2 separate regions of the Homo sapiens genome follow, and region 1 is linked to region 2. Evidence: fine-mapped expression QTL. A gene starts in region 2. The other region holds a variant in brackets. All regions are shown on one strand. Distances are between the middles of the regions.

Region 1 (2,898 bases), 140 kb before region 2:
GAGCCGCATCAGCTCTGTCTCTTCCATTCTTGACTTTTAGAATTTCCTGCCCTTATACTTTAGATGTGTTTGGTATAGATCTTTACCAAGATCTTTAAAATCTTGCTGACAGTCTTTGTCTTAACTAGACTATTGGTCCATTTACATTACTGTAATTATTATATTTAAATTTATTTCCACCATCTTTCCTTGTACTCTGTCATTTGAGGACCAGTTGCTTTTTCGTTTCTTGACTTCTTTTGGATTATTTTTGTTTCTTTTTCTTCTCTACTGGGTTGGAATTTGCTCACTTGGCTTCATAGTGGTTGCCTCGGATGTTCTAACATGCAGAATTAATTTGTTGAAGTCTAAAATTAGTATTTTTGCCCTCCTCCAAACGATTCAAAGATCCAGGAACATTTTATTCTGAGCACTCCGTCCACACAGGACTTGCCCTCCCCGTTGCAGCCTGCATGCAGCATATTGTGTTTCTGTGGGTCCTGACCGAGTGGGGCCAGGACTGTGATAAGAGCTTCCCCTAGGGCTGGATGGTGGCTTTCTTCCTTGTTCACCTAAACCCTCCCAGTCTCAGCCTTGGGGCGTCCCCCGGCAGTAACTGGATCAGCAACCAGGCCTGGCCCAGCCTCTCTCCCCTGACTTCTGCAAAGCTGTGAAAGGAGCGGGCGCAGGCCAGCTGCCGGCCAGGGCCCTCCTGCGCGGGGCCTTCCTTTTTCCAGGTTCCTGCTTTTACTTAGGTTTTGTTCTCTAAGGTTCTGAACGTTCTTGCCAACCCAGTGATAGATTTTTAAAGTTTTTAAAAATATATCTTACCTGGTAGTAATGCTTGTTTGTTCATTAAAGGTCTGGTCAAAGCTGCATAGTTTACTCTGACAGAACGCAAGTGTCCACTCTGAATACATTGACTCCTGTCGGTGCTGTGGGCTGGGCTCGCACCTGAGGCTGGAGTGTTTTTCTCCCACCAGAACTGGGCCTCCTCTCCTGGGAGGGCGGCTCCGGGCACAGCCGCTCTGGCCCTCGGGTCATTGTGGCAGAGCCCGGAGTATCTGGGAGGTGCCATGCCTTCTGCTGCTTGTTGTGGTTTAGCCTTGGACTTGGCTGGAGGCTTCACAGAAGGAAGCCTGTGGCGGGTGGGGCTGCTGACATGGCCATGGGGGTGTGAGGACATTGCTGAAGTTTTTCTGGAACCTACGTTAAGAAACTGGAAGTGATTCCTCCCAGAGGCAGCTCACCTCAGCCTTGGCCACTCAGCCTCCGCTCCTCTGGTGCCCCAAGGCCCCCACGCTTTGCCCGGGACCCCTCACCTTGGGCCTGTGCAGACCCCATCGAGGCAGAGGCGGTCTGCCTGTGTCCCGCTGCTGGCAC[G/A]AGGCCGTGGGGGGCTCAGTCTTGTGTGTGTTTTCTGTGTCTGTCCCTTTCCTCTTTTTCTTTCCTGCTTTCTGTGGGGTAAATGAAAGTTTCTCCTCCTTTGTGTTTTTCCAGTTGATTTGATTATTTTCTTTGTCACCCTTAACATTGTGCATTCTGAGTCTTCCTACCCAAGTCGCAGTCACTCAGCTCTTCTGAGGAGTACCTGAGCGTGTGCGGCCCGCACTGAGCCGACCACATCTTGTTTGCCTGAAACTGTAGTTTTATCCCTTAGGAGAACATGAGCATGAGCTTTTGTTTTATTTTATTTCTGAGACAGGGTCTCACTCCTGTCGCCCAGGCTGCAGAGTGCAGTGGCGATATCTTGGCTCACTGCAGCCTCTACCTCAGGGCCTCAAGCCATCCTCCCACCTCAGCCTCCTGAGTAGCTGGGACTATGGATGTGCACCACCACGCCCTGCTAATTTTTGTATTTTTTCGTAGAGATGGGGTTTCACTATGTTTCGCAGGCTGGTCTTGAACTTCTGGGCTGAAGCAATCTGCCTGCCTCAGCCTCCCAACAACATGAGCTTTTAACCAGTGGTCAATTACATTCACCACTGTCTTCCTCCCACCTGCCAGGCCCTGCCCCCCAGCCCTTCCCGCCTCTTGCCTCAGAACCTCTTCTCTGGGTGGCACCTTGACTCCGGACCCTGTCGTGTTGATATGAAGCCATGGGACTGTCTCTTCCTGGGGTTTGTGGTTTTCCCACCCCTGGGAACTGGCAAGCTGCGTTTGAGGGCCTCTGTTGGCCTGGAAGCCCTGGGGGCCGTGGAAAACTTGGGAAGTGGGCGGTTTCTGTTCTAGAGCCCAGAGCCCTCATCAGGGAGACCTGGCAGGATGCAGCTTGTGCTGGCCTGGCCTGCTGCCCCTTTGCACAACTTCTGAGAGGGCACTGGTTGGCCTGCAGAGTCCAGGCTGAAGGCAGGGACTGCTCAGAGTTTATGTGATGTCATGCTAACAGGGCAGGCAGCTGCAGGCTGGGGCTTGGGCCACCCTGTGATGGGGGCTAGGACAGCACCAGCACAGCTGCCAACTGGGGCTCTGGGTGGTGAGTCTGGCCCCCTCCAACCATGTGCCTCCTGCAAAGCAGGCCTTCACAGGCTGGTGACAGCGGGGCTGCCAAGGGACGGGTCTGTGCCTGGCGTTTTCCAGTTGCTGTTCAGTTTCCCAGTTCCTTCCCGGCACCTTCACCTCGAGGGCACAGTGGCCACCTCAGGAGCTTGGCCCCAGGGATTCCTGCCGGTCCTCACGGCCCCTCTTCTGTACTCACAGTCCCTGCCTGTCCCAGCATCTTCTCACACGTAGGCGCCTGTCCTGGAGACGCAGGTGGATGGGCACAGGCGGTGCTCAGGGCAGCCCACTGGGTCAGGGGTCAGAGAGGGCGGTCTGGACCTGAATTGGGTTTGGAGCCATCACTCTTGCAAGGGATGCAAACTCGGCAGATGGCAGGGCTGCTTGAGCAGTGGGCATGCACTCACACACACGTACTCACAC
Region 2 (2,898 bases):
GAGCCCCCTTGCTAGGTGCCAGCCCAGGCAACCCTCGGGGCAAAGCAGAGTCCAAGTGCATCCCAAGCAGGTGAGGGATGAGGCCAGGACAGGCCAATCAGAGACACGAGGGATGGCCCCAGCCAACAGGGAGGAAATCCAGCTCGAGCACCAGGAGGGGGAAGGACCCCCTAAAGCCACCCCCATCCCAACCCCAGCCCGGGGGACTTGGGGCAGGGGCAGGCAGCTGGCCCTGTAGAGCTCTGAGCGTCCACCACAGTGACAGGTATGGAGCCAGCATGTGTGCAAGTCCACCAGGCAGCCCCCAGCCCCTCAGGCAACCCAGCCGCACGCCGCCGGAGCTCCTCTCGGCGAGTCGTGGCTCTGGGTCCCTGAATCAGGCAGCGCAACCAGAGGCCTCTTCAGGAGGCCCAGGGTACTGCAGGCAAGACCCTTCTCCCAGAGAAACCCCAATACGTCCAGGAAGCAACTGGGGCGCCAAGACGCCCAGGAGGGCTCACTGCTGGACTAGACACACTTTGAGAAAGGCAGCGGTACCCCCGCCTCCACCTCCACCCCCAGGTAGGAATCCAGGAAGAAAAGGAAGGCACAGAGGTTTGGGGAAGGCTAACTTTGCTCTGTCTCCCCTAAGCCTAGAATGACTCCGTACACGGCTCCCCTCTCTGCACCCATGGAAATTAATCCCACCGTGCCCCGGGCCTCCGCTCTGGTACAGACAGGGGCCCACACCAGTCCTGGACGCTCCCTCCCAGGCGGGGTGCTTGCTTAGTTAGTAATTCTTGCCCTGATCCCAATTCCTGAGGGGTGGTCCGGACGCCCCGCACTACAAGTGAGGTCATTTGAATCCCTGAAAGTTGAAGGAACTTGCCCCAGTGAGACTCCACTTTCTCCTTCAGCCTAGCTCCAAGGCCCACACAAAGCTTAAGTTTGGGTAAGTCCCTTCTCTGCGGCCTCGATTTCCTCATCTGAAAATGAAGACAATTCCGGAGCTGTCTACCTGACCGACGGGCTGCGGAGAATCCACACACCTTCGCCTTGGAACAAAACGCGAAGCGCCCACCGGCAGCCTTCGGCTCCCTGCCTTTCCTGACCGTTGGCACCTGCTGCCCTGGGCCTCAGCCAGCAACGCCCAAGGCGGCCCGGCGGGACCTGTGCCCTGGGCGCCCGCGTGCCGGCAGCCGCGTCTCCCGAGGGCCCCTCCCCGGCCTCCTCCGTCGCCAGCCTCCTCTCTCCCTTCGGTCTCCTCCTCCTCCCGCCCTTCCCGGCCTCCTCCCTCTCCTCTGCCTCATCCTTCCCCGGCCCGGCCTCCTCTCTCGGTGTCGACCCAGTGCCCCTCCTTCCCGGGCCCGCCACTGCTCTCCCTGGCCGGGGCCCCTCTCCCTCGCTCCGCTCCCGCCGCAGGACCCGGGAGTCCGCGCCTCACCTCGCGCCCCGCGCCGACCGCCGCACAAGTGGGTCCGCTGGCTTCCGCGGGTCAGTGGGCCCCGCGCTCCCTGAGGCGCTGCGGGGGCGGGCCCCGCACCCGGCCCTCGCCATGGCAACGCTACACTTCCGGCCCGCGGTACCCATAGCCGGAAGCCGCGGTGCCCCGTGGGAGCCGGGGGCGGAGCCTGGGAGGAGGAAATGTCGGGGGCGGGGCCTGGGGAGGGACGGTCGGGGGTGGGGGCCAACGCGGACAGCTGCGGGCGGCCGGGCGAGTCCTCCGCGGCTGGGACCTCCTTGGGGCGTGGGTGGGACGGGAATGGCTCAAAGTGCTCCAAGGCTCCCGGGACGGTGGTCATTGATTTATGCTGGACAAAACCGAGTCATCGCGGGCAACGGGACGGGCGCCAGCGGAATGGGTGGCAGCTTTGGGGGTGGTTTCGGGCCCAGGACAGTGCGGTCGGAGAAGAGCGGTCAGAACTTGGGGAGCCTCCAGCGCCCCACCAAGGAAGCGCCAGTGGAGAGGGGGGTGCCTTAAAACTTACGGGAGACCGGGCGCGGTGTCTCACGCCTGTAATCCCAGCACTTTGGGAGGCCGAGGCGGGCAGATCACGAGGTCAGGAAATCGAGACCATCCTAGCTAACCTGATGAAACCCCGTCTCCACTAAAAATACAAAAAAATTAGCCGGGCGTGGTGGTGGGCGCCTGTAGTCCCAGCTACTCGGGAGGCTGAGGCAGGAGAATGGCATGAACCCGGGAAGCGGAGCTTGCAGTGAGCCGAGATCACGCCACTGCACTCCAGCCTGGGCGGCAGAGTGAGACTCCGTCTCAAAAAAAAAAAAAAAATTATGGGAAAGGCCCGGCCCGGTGGCTCACGTCTGTGATCCCAGCACTTTGGGAGGAGGCCGAGGCCAGTGGGTCACTTGAGCCCGGGAGACCAACCTGAGCAACATAGGCAGGCCCGGTCCCTACCAAAAATTAAGAAATTAGCTGGGCTCTGTGGCGCACGCCTGTAGTCCCGGGACGCTGAGTCGGGAGGATCGCCCTAGCGGGGGAGGTGGAGGCTGCACGGGGCCCAGATCGCACCACTGCACTCCAGCCTGGGCAACAGAGTGAGACCTTGTCTCAAAACAACAACAACAACAAACACTTGTAGGAAAGAACGACGCCTTGCTGACCGAATGGGGTGAAGTGGCCACAAGTATTAGCCTCATGAGGCACAGGATTGTGCAGCCATAACCTAGGGAACACAGCAGAGAGGTGGTGGCAGGAGTCCTGAGGGAAACCACGTGGCGTCTGAGGGGAGAGTCAGAGATAGAAGGAAAAGGGGCACCACCCGACCGGGGGTGTGGGGGGCAGGAGCAGTGTGGTACCCCACATACAAGGCCCCTTGCGGCCCAGGCCTCCTCCTCCTGGACACTTGCTGCCTGTCCCTCCCCTCCACACCTCAGGGTGTGCTGGACCCCACCGTATGC

The links. PIP is the estimated chance that this variant, and not a neighbour inherited with it, causes the effect. A credible set is the group of variants that fine-mapping cannot tell apart.
Region 1: its variant is the best candidate, but not a certain one, in a credible set for the expression of PPP1R16A in whole blood (TOPMed, PIP 0.79).

What each region holds. Positions count from the first base shown.
Region 1 is chr8:144,620,597-144,623,494 of GRCh38, reverse strand. The region is part of intron 1 of ARHGAP39 (Rho GTPase activating protein 39); the gene reads left to right. Among named protein-coding and RNA genes, the nearest start is that of ARHGAP39, 64 kb to the left of the region's middle. The variant G/A (reference allele first, on the strand shown) is at 1,363.
Region 2 is chr8:144,476,653-144,479,550 of GRCh38, reverse strand. PPP1R16A (protein phosphatase 1 regulatory subunit 16A) reads right to left here and starts at 1,569. Exons shown (of 12, transcript NM_001329443.2): 1 at 1,424-1,569. RefSeq lists a silencer at 1,264-1,693 and an enhancer at 2,568-2,898.